Regions from separate parts of the Homo sapiens genome. Here regions 1 and 2 are each linked to region 3. Evidence: fine-mapped expression QTL. A gene starts in region 3. Each other region holds a variant in brackets. All regions are shown on one strand. Distances are from middle to middle.

Evidence for each region. PIP is the estimated chance that this variant, and not a neighbour inherited with it, causes the effect. A credible set is the group of variants that fine-mapping cannot tell apart.
Region 1: its variant is the best candidate, but not a certain one, in a credible set for the expression of FEZ2 in hippocampus (GTEx, PIP 0.89).
Region 2: its variant is the best candidate, but not a certain one, in a credible set for the expression of FEZ2 in monocytes (Quach 2016, PIP 0.64).

The regions. Positions count from the first base shown.
Region 1 is chr2:36,541,553-36,545,797 of GRCh38, forward strand. It overlaps CRIM1 (cysteine rich transmembrane BMP regulator 1), which reads left to right. Exons shown (of 17, transcript NM_016441.3): 15 at 2,824-2,946. Among named protein-coding and RNA genes, the nearest start is that of FEZ2, 54 kb to the right of the region's middle. The variant A/G (reference allele first, on the strand shown) is at 2,614.
Region 2 is chr2:36,553,996-36,558,240 of GRCh38, forward strand. It overlaps FEZ2 (fasciculation and elongation protein zeta 2), which reads right to left. Exons shown (of 8, transcript NM_005102.3): 7 at 1,688-1,753. Among named protein-coding and RNA genes, the nearest start is that of FEZ2, 42 kb to the right of the region's middle. The variant T/C (reference allele first, on the strand shown) is at 2,461.
Region 3 is chr2:36,595,632-36,599,876 of GRCh38, forward strand. It overlaps FEZ2 (fasciculation and elongation protein zeta 2), which reads right to left and starts at 2,537. Exons shown (of 8, transcript NM_005102.3): 1 at 2,246-2,537. The coding sequence starts at 2,511. RefSeq lists enhancers at 1,678-2,605, 2,606-3,532 and silencers at 1,986-2,345, 2,386-2,605.

The sequences.
Region 1 (4,245 bases), 54 kb before region 3:
CTCAGCTTGTAAGCACCAAGCACCTCGCCCCGTATTCCAGAAGAGGACATTTTAAGGAAGGCAACTCTTAGAGATGACCAGATGCCTCTGAAAGTAAAATATATCCCCAGTAAATTATCTTGAGTTCCTCCAAAGCGCAGGTCAAGTATGAGCACAGGAGCGATTGTGACCGTGTGCCCGTGATCTTCGTGGTAGGGCTGGATGTAGCTTTGTGTAAATCTCCCTGGCACTGTCCATCTGTAATGCCAACAGCTGTAAAGGGCTCTTCTAGTAAATACCAGAAGGGTTATATTTTAGAGTCTTGGGTTGAAGGCGGTCTTTGGCCATAGAAGGCGGCCTGGGTCTAGGCGTGGAAACAAATAGCATTCCCACTTCTTTTTGTTTCAACAAGCAGTTTTTTAACTGAAAGAATTGTTCTTTTTGGCAAAACTGCTCAGAGGCAGCTTCCCTTTTATGTTCAAATTAAAGGGAAATGACTCTCTTCCCTTGGACTTGAGGACTGTGAACTGGAGCTGTGCGTGTTCTGTGATAAAGAAGGAGGTGTGGGTGGATTTTAATCAGAGCTGAACTGAGTGGTGGAGTGAGCTAATACACAGGACAGGTTATGAGCTGCTGGAAGTAAGAAGTGGCTGTCAGGCATCACTCATCAGGAGAGACCCATGGGGGCCAGGATTGGTCTCACTCAAAACTGTATGCCCAAAACCAGTGCCTGCCATGTAGGAAGTGCTCAGGAAATATTTGTTGAACAAATGGTAATACAATTAATCACTGAAGAAGACATCCTCCTTCACCATAGACAGATCCTTCTAACTTTCCCTGCTGTTTCCAAGTAGAGCCCCTGTGGGAAGAGGACTCACTGTCATGCCTCAGCTTGGTGGAGTTTCACCGGAAATCTACCCATATGCAGGGTCAAGGCAAAAGAATTCCAAAGTTACGTCTCTCCCTCTCACTCAGGAAAAAACCTGAGGTGGAACTGAATCAATCCCAGCTCTGGGGCCTCTGCAGAAACTTTTACTACTTAGCCATTGACATTTACAGGTTTGTTGGAATTGGTGTCGCATTTGCCCTTTACACTGAGGCCTCAGAAACCAGTGGCAGTTCGGCCCCTATTGTCATAGGAAGGCTCAGTGTGAAGCCCTGGACTAGGCAGGGGAGGGGCAGAAGGGTGTGTGTGGCACTGAAAGGTGTCAAGTAAATGGCGACATGGCTTTTCTGCCCATATTCACCCAGGAAATTCATACCACACATGAGAGTTTTTCAGTGGGTGCATTAAATACCATCCCCCTGCACACACCTCCCGGAATCACCTAGTCCAGACCTACCGAATCAGGACCTGTGAGAGTCAGCACATTTTCTAAGCTCTTTGGGTAATTCTGATATGATTTTTAAAAATTTGAGAGTCACTGGTTTGTGCTCAGGCCCCTGCACCTGCAAATGGTAATGTTTTCAGTAACTTCTATTTTTAATTCTCGAGTTTGCAGGGATGCACTGAACCTGTAGAAACTATAATTGTTCCCAGTTCTTTTTATGTTTAAAGGTTTTATAATATAACTAAGAAAGCAGAAGACTATTCTTGGAGGCAACAAGATAACTTGGGCTTTGGAATCACAGAACTGCATTTGAATCCCAGCTCTACCACTTACTAGATGCATGATTTTGAGCGATTTAACTTAACCTCTCTGGGTTTCTTTCCCTGGCTGGGTACCCAGTTAACTCATGGGGGAAGCTTAGCAAGTACTCTCTTCTCTATCACTTTCCTCTTCTCTCAAAGTCATCTTAAGGTTTACTTCTCAAAAGCCTGTTAACTTTGAGACAGAAAACAATCACTCTGAGCAGAGGGGATTATTAATCCTATTTTAATTTATATACTTATACTGTATATTTTATGTTGGTCTAAATTAGGCTATGGTGAGTATTTAGGATCCTACGTGTTGAGTAATTGCTTTATAAAAAAATCAGTGAATAATATGGCAGGATCTGCCCGAAAGGAAATACGTGCATGACACAAACTTTTATTGTCACATTTTGAAAACAGGTTCTGAAGAATTAATTGCTTTAAAATGTGGGGCTAGTTGTCGTTAGCTGGATGAAGTATAAATACAAAGAAATATTTGTAGGAGCTGAGAAAAGTTCTGATTTTTTTTTTTTTTAAAAAGACCTGATATTTGAGATAAATAATATTCTTCTGTTTGTTTTATGTTGTAGTATAATACCTATCTGATCAAACTGGATAATGTAAATATATTTACTGAAGATCAGCTTCTAATCTAAATGGTTCCAGTGGTAACATAATGGACATCTGAGACTTATACTCATGAGGTCTACCTACAGTCCATTCCCATTTAGGGGAAGAGAAAGGAGAGGAAATGGCCAAGAAGTCCATAAGAAGTGGACAGTGCTTTAACTTTTTCAAGTTTTGCTAACATATTTTATGTAAGTTATTCAATACCCCCATATTAAAGAGCAGCAGCTATTAAACACCAACATTTATTAGCTGCTGGAAAGTAATAAATAACTTCAGCTAGTCCCCTTCAGTTTCCATAAAATTATAAAACCAACACCATTTGACGTGAAAAAGCAGTTTTTGACCCTGGTGGAGTAGAGAATTCTTTC[A/G]TCTTTTAAATGTTATAAGACATGTTTCTCCTCACTGCAAAGCTCGTGATTCTCTAGCATGAGTGATGAATGATGTAAATGGCAGAAACTGCATCTTTCATGTCCCAGGAAATGTGGTCTTGAATTGAGTGCACCATTTGGATTGAGAATACAAAAGCCAACAATACAGCAGCTTCATCATCTCTTAGGAAAAATGTTCCCTTCTTTTAGAAATGTATGTCCCAGAACCAACCAATATACCCATTGAGAAGACAAACCATCGAGGAGAGGTTGACCTGGAGGTTCCCCTGTGGCCCACGCCTAGTGAAAATGATATCGTCCATCTCCCTAGAGGTAAGCATTGAAGGCAGCTGAGATCTGCTAGTTTTCTATGTGGTCTACTTAGGTGTTTTCTAATTTTTAAAATTTCCTATGAGTAACTTTTAAAATGACTTGCTGAAGTAAATTCAAATAACTATTCCCGGGCAGACCTGCTTGGCTGAAACATATTTACACCACACATTGATAAAATAAGTCAGCAGGTAACTGGATTAAATGCCTCCTTCCTGGCCCTCTGTGCTCAGAGACTTTGTGATGACGGAAATAAATGGAAATAAATATGTTCCTAGTCATAAGAGCCTGGTATCTGGAACTTCTAAGCCATCTCTCAAACGTATGTATATATAAACTTTGTAAGGAGAGTAATCATGAATTAGTCACTGTCTCTTGTAGATTCCGCACTGAGCATTTGTACATTAGGTTACCCTCTACTTCTGGGCAGTTTTCACTTCATGTGAGCTAAACTTATCACCTATGTTGATTTTTCTAGTCACCAGGTTTACTCCATGCCTTTTTATCTTGCTCTATCCTTTCAGTCTGTGCGTAATAAAGATGTTATTTTGTCTCCCAATAGCTGTCACTATTTCCTTTTCTATAAAAGTAGACCTCTTCTTGATCAGTAGTATAAACTTGCTCTTAGCCGTGACTCAGTACTGCCTCCTGTGTCCTCCAACCATATTTTCCAAATCATTGCTATATAACTTATATTTCTTTTGGAAGAAGCAATATTCATTGCTTGAGAGAGATTAATTGTCTGTTACTCTAGATATTCTAAACGTTATGCTTGGATCAAACCAGATGACCAGAAAGTCAAATTCCTGGACCTAGTGTTTTTGGCTCTCTGTATAATTGTTCTGAGTGTGCTTTAGCATTATGCTTACATTCATTCAGTCAGTAAATATTAGTGCCTGCTGTATGCCAGACCCTGTTCTAGAGGCTAGACTTCAACATACTGTAAGTACGACTATTCTTATGACTGAAGACCTGTGCATTGCATAGTATCTATGTTATAAAGCCCCTAAAGAGAAATTTTCTCATGCATCAATAGCAAGAAAATGTATGCTTCTCCTAGGCAACTGATTTGTTTTAACCTAAAAGACATTGTGAATCGTATTAAAGACTGATAGTTGTTTCCGTTTTTGGCTTTGGCTGCTACAAAGCTCAAAGCTAACTTTGATGGCTTGGTTTTAGCACAGAAACAGAACTGGAAGACTGAATTTTGTAAACAGACCTCACTTGCAGCTTCATTTTTCTTTCACCAAGACCTTCCTTAATTTATATCTTATTCTTCTTGTATGACACATATTCCTAAAA
Region 2 (4,245 bases), 42 kb before region 3:
CATCTCCACATTGCACTCCCGTCTTCATTTTCTCTGACTACAGTCTCCACTGTAGTCTAAATCCTTGCTGCTTTTCCACCCAGTCCTCACAATACAAAGCCAAGACAAAACCACAACACATGCACACAGACAGCTCATCAGAAGCAGGTACAGTATAGATAGAACTGGGCTTACAGACAGGAGCCAGCGGCCCGAGCATGAGGAGCAGAATTAGATGGGTGCTGCTTCCCTAAGGCATGCGGTATAGGTAGGTTCACAATTATAGTCCTAGGTTTTCAGAGTAAAGAATTAAAAATCATTTTTCCCCAGAGGACTCTGTTCTTTGGGTCATAACATCCTTCCATGCAGTTAAATGCTAAAATAGCTAGAGAATGCTTCAGAAGCTCATTCTATCTCTGGCCCTCATAGAGGCCTAGGAACCCGATATAATTAAAATTTAAGACATGTTCTTTATGTTCGTCTCATTCCTGTTTCACATCTAGAAGAACGAACCTCAGAACAATCCAGCTTTCATACCAATGCTAGCACAACACAAAAGCAAACAAAGATGTCAGGTATTAAAAAAAAAATTTTTCAGAATTTTATAGGGAGAAAAAGTCCTCCATCAGAAAAAAAGCTTATTTTTTAAAATGATGTCAACTCAGTCTGTTCTACTCCAGTGTCAACCCACTAGTGTCTAGCTCATGCTTCTTACTCTCACCGCATCAAGACTCTTACAAGTGAAATGTGTGATTCACTTTGAGCACCCTGTGTATACTACTGAGGTTCCCCTTTCATGACACTATGGTTTAAGAAAAGACCATCAGAGGTTTCTAATGTCTCAGAAATCTTCATCTTCCTTGTGCTCAGCTAACTTTAATGGAGAAGAGAGAGAACCCAGAGAAGAAGACTGTTACTAGAAGAGGATTGCTCTCAAAATTTGATCAAACACTACAAAGATGCATTTTGTGATGCTTTCAAAATCTGGTCCCTGAATACCTGCTACTTTAAAAAAATATTTCATCGTAAAGTATTAATTTTGCCTCTAATTAAGTTCTTCCGTCCCTTCTTTATCATCCAAACTTTGCTCTTTTCTCGGCAAAGCAACTCAACCTCTCACTCTTCTTTTGCCTCATCAATATTCCCACCCTGTGTGAGCCTCACCTTGCCTCTAAGATTTGTGGCTGCTTTTTCACTTTCCTGGGTTTATGCAAGTCCATTCTTTTTATTTCCCCGCTTCCCTCCCTGTGTCTTACATCAGTCCCTTTCGTATTCCCTTTGGCACTGTTCACAGATGTGACTCTTCCTTCCTTCATCCGTCCTCACTAATGATCTGTCCTCCTTTCCACTGTCCTCAAGATGACAGAGACCACCCTTCTCAAATTTCCCAGTGCCAATCTGCCAACATCTGATACCCACATGATTATGGTGCCATCTCACTAATTTTCTTCTACTACCTCTCTTGATGTTTATAGTTTAACTGTGGAGATTATTTCCAACCCAGAACCTCCAATAAAACTTAAATTATATAAAACCATGATATATAATGTTGGTAGAAGTCAGTCATGTAGCTAATCCTCACCCTGCATAATAAGATTAATGAAAGTTGTGCATTGGGAAGTTACTGTCTAATGTATTAGCAAGGCGATGTATTTACTGACTAATCCAAACCTCCCAGCCATCGCACCTATACCATTATAAAACTCACCTTTCAGAATATAATCAGTTAACAAGCTCGGAACTTTTTCACTGTCCTCCTTCATGGCACGAAGAACTGCAAAATAGAAGAGGGGAAAAAAGACAACAATTAAAAATTTAGATCAAAAATATTATTTAATTTCAATCATTGTGGCCTTAATCTTCCTTAATTATAGGATATAACTGACTCATACAAATTATAGGTGATTTTCCTGATAAGGGGATACAACAATAAAGGCCCAATAATTTATTTTAGTGGAGTAAGTCCACAAGAATTTATTTTCGGTAAGAATATCCCACTTACCTGAGAGTTGCTTCCCTGATTTAAAATTTCCAAACAGTGGAGACAAAAAAAGAGGAACTGGGTTATTTACAAGGAGCCTTCGCTCTGTAATAATACCGGAAAGTGGGTTACTATAATGTGCACCTCAATGAACTCTGTGCAGCAAGAAAACCTCAGTGCTGCAGATCAAGCAAACTAGAGAAACTCTTAAAGAAATGGACAGCTATACCCTCCAACAAGCGTATCCTGTCAGACTCCTTAGAAACTTTCAAAGAAAAGACCCAAATGAAGAACAGACTTCCATGAAGCAGCATCGGGCATCTGCCTGGCTGTTGCCTCCTCTGCACTAGGGAGAAACCTGGGAGAATTAGCCTCATTCTAATTTGACAAATTTATCTTCTAAGTAAAAACTAAAATAGAAAAAGCAGCCACCTAGTATAACGTTTTTCTTTTTTAAGCTAGACCATTCAGGTTGAGATAAACTCACAAATATTATACTT[T/C]AACAGAGATTGCCAACTCAAATTTTCTCCAAAGCATCCTGGTAAAAATATTTCACTGTTTTTCCCCACCAATACGACAAGGCAAAATAGTGTAACTGTCAAATCAGCCTTCCTGGGTTTAAACCCTGGCTCTGCCACTTCCTAATTGTGTGACGCTGAGCAAGCTACTTAACCACTTTTGCACCAAGCTCTTCATCTGTGAAATGAGAATAATAATTAGATTTAATCTCAAAGGTTTGTTATGAGGACTAAGCTACTAATTCAGATATAAAGGTCATATCATAGTGCCTGGCACATAGTACATGCTATGTATTAACTGTAACTAACACTACTCAAATTATTTAAATTTTTATTAACTATTATTATTGCACCCAAAATCCCCTAATAGCTTTTATCAGGAAGACTATATATCCATAAACACTGTGACTGTCTCCACAGGGCTCTTCTTTTGGAAAGAAAAGGAGCTTTGGACCCAAATATGTCCAGAGATTCCAAACTGTGACAACCTATAAAGACATCTCGATGCTGGAATTATGATGACTTTAGTTTGACCAATGAAGTATTTGTTCTTGATCTGAGAAGCTGAGGCCTGCCAGTAATTCCTGGCTTATGAGCAATATTTATGTTCCCTTCTTTAGAGGGCTACCATGTTCAGTATTTCTGCTTCCAATCATGTTTAAAATTTTTTCTAACTTCTAAATAAAATCACATACCAAAAACCAGCATCATTAAAAGTATAATTGCCTGGGAATTAAGAGATCCAGCTCTGTAACTAACCATCCCCCTGTGTGATCTTGGACACATATAACTTAAGTTCTTCCTGAAAATAAGAGGGCTAGCTACCCAGTTAATCTCTTGATTTTTTATTTCAGACTGGCTGGCATCACTTGATTTATCCATATTTAAATATAAAATTTTTAAAGAATTATTCACCAAAGGAAAGAATAAAAGCTCCAAGTTAGCAGGCAGGGAGCTAAGAAATAAGACACTTGCTTCTACTCTTAGGTTTTCCTTGCCCATTCCTCTTAAATTTCCAAAATAAGTATCATCATCCATACTCATCCATGTGATGCTCTTTCATTTGGTTCCCCCCTAATTAGCAAGTATCATAAATATTTACCATAACAAAGACCTAACAGATCAGCAAATTCAATCCCTCCATTTTAACGGCTAATTGATAGTAACTTAGCCAAAATCATACATATATTAATCTATTTACTGTGAGGTAAATAGAACAAATATTTTTTATCCTAGTTTTTCAATGTAAGCAAAAGAGAGTAAGTAACTTCCAAGGATATCCCTGAAAATAACAGGGATAGAACCAGAATTCAAGGCTCATTTGCGGCCATCATAAGAGATACTCAATATCATGTATATTTAAATCTAACAATTTTTTTTTTAAGGCAAGCCCCTTGAAGGTGCATTATCTTTGTCTGCTTTGTTCACTAAAGTATCCCAAGTGCCCAGATCATGGCCTGGTACAGAGTAGGCCTTCACTAAATATTTGCTGAATGAATGCATGTTCTTAAAACATCACTGTCAATTTATGTTCTACCTATAACTACTACCTCGGGTTCTACATTCATAAGAAATAAAAAGTGTTTACCGTAAATCTTTCCTATTCAGTTACTGACAATCATAGATATATAAGATCCATAAGGAATTTTATTTATGATAAATGGATATGTTCTTAAACATGTAAGAGATGATGGAGATTTAGGTTATGCTTTTTCCCAAAATTTTAGCTCATAAATATTTCACAAGGTAAGAAAAACAGAAAAAGTA
Region 3 (4,245 bases):
AAGCACAGCAATATCTGAGTAAAACAATTATCAATTATATCTAGTGAAAAGGGAACTGGAACAGACTATCAAGCAATGATGAGTATGTTTTTGCAATATAAAAGGGACAATGCCAGTGATGACCAGCTCCCAACTCCCGGAAAAAAAGAGATTTCATATGCATTCCCAAGTCAAGAGACATGCATTACCACCAACATATCATCTACTAAATACCATTAACAAGAGCGACAAAATATTTTTAAGCAAAGGCTAAAATAACCTACTCTCCTGACGGTCTAAGTGAAACAAAAACTCTTAACGATCTACGTACAATCCTCTAATTGATTTAAGTCAGCTACTCTTGAAAAACCCAAATACATAATACATCTACACTAATTTTTAAATCCAGAATGTGTCCTGGGTTTAGTGATTCAGAGTATCTAAATCTACATATACATAAAATTATCTTCTCTTTGGGAACAGGCTTCCAAAAATGTCATCTTTTGCTACTGACGGCATGCATGTGTGTATAAAATCCAATTATAAGTGTTTCCCTTCTCTACACCTGGGCAGAACACTGTACTGAGGAACCAATAAAAGGAGATGGTCTCCAAACACAGGTGGGCCTGCACCACTGCTCAGCCATGTTTACAGGCCCCACTCCCAAGGCTGTCTTTACAAGCTTCCTACCTTATTCCTGATAAATCTGTTTGTTTCACAAAGGAAAGGAGACAATCAGGCTGGAAACTCCTTTCCGTGCCCGTGACTCCTGTCCTGTCTCTCAAAAATTCTTCCCTAACCTCTAAGAGTCTCTCCATCCCATCAATGCTCTGAAAATCCATTCCTTCCCATGTCCTCATTTTTGAGACAAAGTCTCGCTCTGACACCCAGGCTGGAGTGCAGTTGTGCGATGATGGCTCACTGCAACCTTCGCCTCCAGGACTCAAGCAATCCTGCCATCTCAGCCTCCGGGCAGCTGGGTCCGTGGGACCACGGGCATGCGCCACCGGACTTCACTAATTTTTTTTTAATTTTTTTGTAAAGACCAGATTTCACGATATTGCCCAGTCTGGTCTCGAACTGCTGGAAGCAAGCCATCCTCCCACCACAGCCTCTCAAAGTGCTGGGATCACAGGTGTGAGCCACCGCGCCCAATCTTATTCCACTCATTTTACCTTCAGCCTCTCCGGAGGCTCCTCTCCCCCTATATACACAACATGCTCAAGTCCCTTTACTCTCACCATTCCTATTTACCATCTTTTGGGGGTAAAACCATGGTACCTAATTACAACTCTTACTTAACCAAATTATAATTGCGGCTCAGGTGGTTTAAAAAGTGCCCTCAGGAACTCTGCGCCTCACCTCTCCCAGCTGTGATAAAACCCCGTGAACCTCCTATCATTGCTCTTAGGTGATTCTGTAATTATTAATATTACTTGTGTATGCCTTGGTCTCCCCACCAGACCATGCGATCGTTACCATCAGTAAGCAGGGCCCTTCGTTTTCGTCTCTGTGGCGGCTCGCACTCTACCAGGGCTCCCGGGTGGGTCCCACAGATTCCTGTGCCCTAAATGCTGCCTCGCACGTTGGTACTTATGCACAGGCAATATACTCCACCTAGAACGTTAGACTTTTTTCCACCTGCCAGGCACACTCCCACTCATCAGTCAGATCTCGTTTGCACATTTCTTTATAAAGTCGTTCCTTACTCTCCCCAAGACACACGCTTTTAAGTCTCTCACATTTGGTACATATAACCATTGCAGCGCTAATTACATCCATACATGTATTTGTTTACAAATCTATCTCCCATCCTACGTTGTGTCCTAAGTGGGAGGGACAGTGCCCAGTCGTTTTGGTGTTCCCTGTGCGAAGCAGCGCCTGGCACTCAGCAGGTGCTTAATAAATGCGACTTGAGTGAATGAATGGCGACACACGTGCCCCAGGAGGTGCCCCAGGAGGTGCCGTCTCTAACTATGGGCTCTGCATGGGCGATTCCCTTCTAATACAAACGAGGGTTTGGTTTGCAGGAAGGAGGGCGGGAGGTACCGAGGCGGAGGTTTTCAGGGCTCGTGGCGGCGGGGGGCAGGGGATTTAAATTGCTGGGCGAGCCGAGGCCGACGGCCGGAGGAAGGAGGCGAGAGGGCGGGGACTCCCGCGTCCGGGCGGAAGGAGGGCGCAGGGAGGAGCTGCGGCCGTAGGGCTGCCGGTCGGGCGAGGGGTAGGGGAGGCTCCCGCCCACTCCCGGCCGGGGCCCCGCACTCACTCGTCCCCCTGCAGGAGGCTGCGCTCCGTGATGGGCCGCACGGCCGTCCTCGGGGGCTCGGCGCCCGGATCCGAGGGGCGGAAGCACAGGCTCAGCTTCTCCTCCAAGCTGCAGGCCGGGGCCGGGAAACCGTCGGCGCCCCCACCCGCCTCGGCCCCCGCCTCCGCCCCAGGCTCGGGGCTCGCGTTACAGTTCTCCTGGTCCAGGAGGCTCCGGGCCGGCTCCTGGAACTCATAGAAATCCTGCCAGTCCCCGTCCGCCGCCATCGCCGCCCGGAGCAGTCGCGCGCCCCGCCCAGGCCGGCCCAGCCCGCCCAGCCCGGCCCCGCCCCGGCCCGAAGCCCCGCCCCCGCCCGCTACCGTGCTGACAGATCCCAGGCTGTCCCAACCCTGGGTCTCCGGTGGCCTGAGTCTTCCTGGAGTTGAACGCGGTGCTACTAGAAAGCCAAGACCTTAACTGCCTTGAGTCACTTCCTATATTCTCTATCATTTAGGAATAACTTCCCTGTTAGCTTCCCTTATTAGCAACTTGGCCTAAATGTGGCTAAAATAAAGGACTTCTTTAAACTTACGACCTAATATCAGATTACGCCCCGAAAGTCGTTTTCCCCAAGGTAACCTGCTCCTTTCCTAACTTGCCAACCAGAATAACAGCCAGAGTCAATGGGAAATGTTTAGGTGGTACCGAAGTTCATTCCTCAAATATTTTACCTCTCACGTGCAAAGCACTGGCTAGATCCTGCAGAACATACAAAGATAATTATGCCAGTTAACATTTGCAAAGCACTTAGAGCAATGCCTAATAGTAGATACCCTATGTGTATGTTATAACTAATACATGGGTGCCCCATACACAGGGCTTACAATGTCGGAGTGATAAGAGTAACAAGAAATTGTTTAGACCTCATAAAAACTAAGTGTGATTGGGCGGTTCAGTTTTGCAAGATGAAAAGAGTTATGGAGATGGATGGTGGTGATGGTTCCACGACAGTGTTAATGTGCTGAATGCCACTGATCTATACACTTACAGATGGTTAAGATAGTAATTTTATGTTTATTTTACTACAATACAAAAAAATTGGAGTAGGCCAGGCGAGGTGGCTCACATCTATAATCCCAGCACTTTGGCAGGCCCAGGTGGACGGATCGCTTGAGGTCAGGAGTTCAAGACCAACCTGGCCAACATGGTAAAACCCCGTCTCTACTAAAAATACAAAATCTAGCTGTCAGGCCTCTGAGCCCAAGCCAAGCCATCGCATCCCGTGACTTGCACATATACACCCAGATGGCCTGAAGTAACTGAAGATCCACAAAAGAAGTAAAAATAGCCTTAAGGATGACATTCCACCATTGTGATTTGTTCCTGCCCCACCCTAACTGATCAATGTACTTTGTAATCTCCCCCACCCTTAAGAAGTTTCTTTGTAATTCTCCCCACCCTTGAGAATGTACTTTGTGAGATCCACCCCTGCCCGCAAAACATTGCTCTTAACTTCACCGCCTGACCCAAAACCTGTAAGAACTAATGATAATCCATCTCCCTTCGCTGACTCTCTTTTCGGACTCAGCCCGCCTGCATCCAGGTGAAATAAACAGCCGTGTTGCTCACACAAAGCCTGTTTGGTGGTCTCTTCACACGGACGCACATGAAATTTGGTGCCGTGACTCGGATCGGGGGACCTCCCTTGGGAGATCAATCCCCCTGTCCTCCTGCTCTTTGCTCCATGAGAAAGATCCACCTACGACCTCAGGTCCTCAGACCGACCAGCCCAAAAAACATCTCACCAATTTCAAATCCAGTAAGCGGCCTCTTTTTACTGTCTTCTCCAGCTTCCCTCACTATCCCTCAACCTCTTTCTCCTTTCAATCTTGGCGCCGCACTTCAATCTCTCCCTTCTCTTAATTTCAGTTCCTTTCATTTTCTGGTAGAGACAAGGGAGACACGTTTTATCCGTGGACCCAAAACTCCGGCGCCGGTCACGGGCTGGGAAGGCAGCCTTC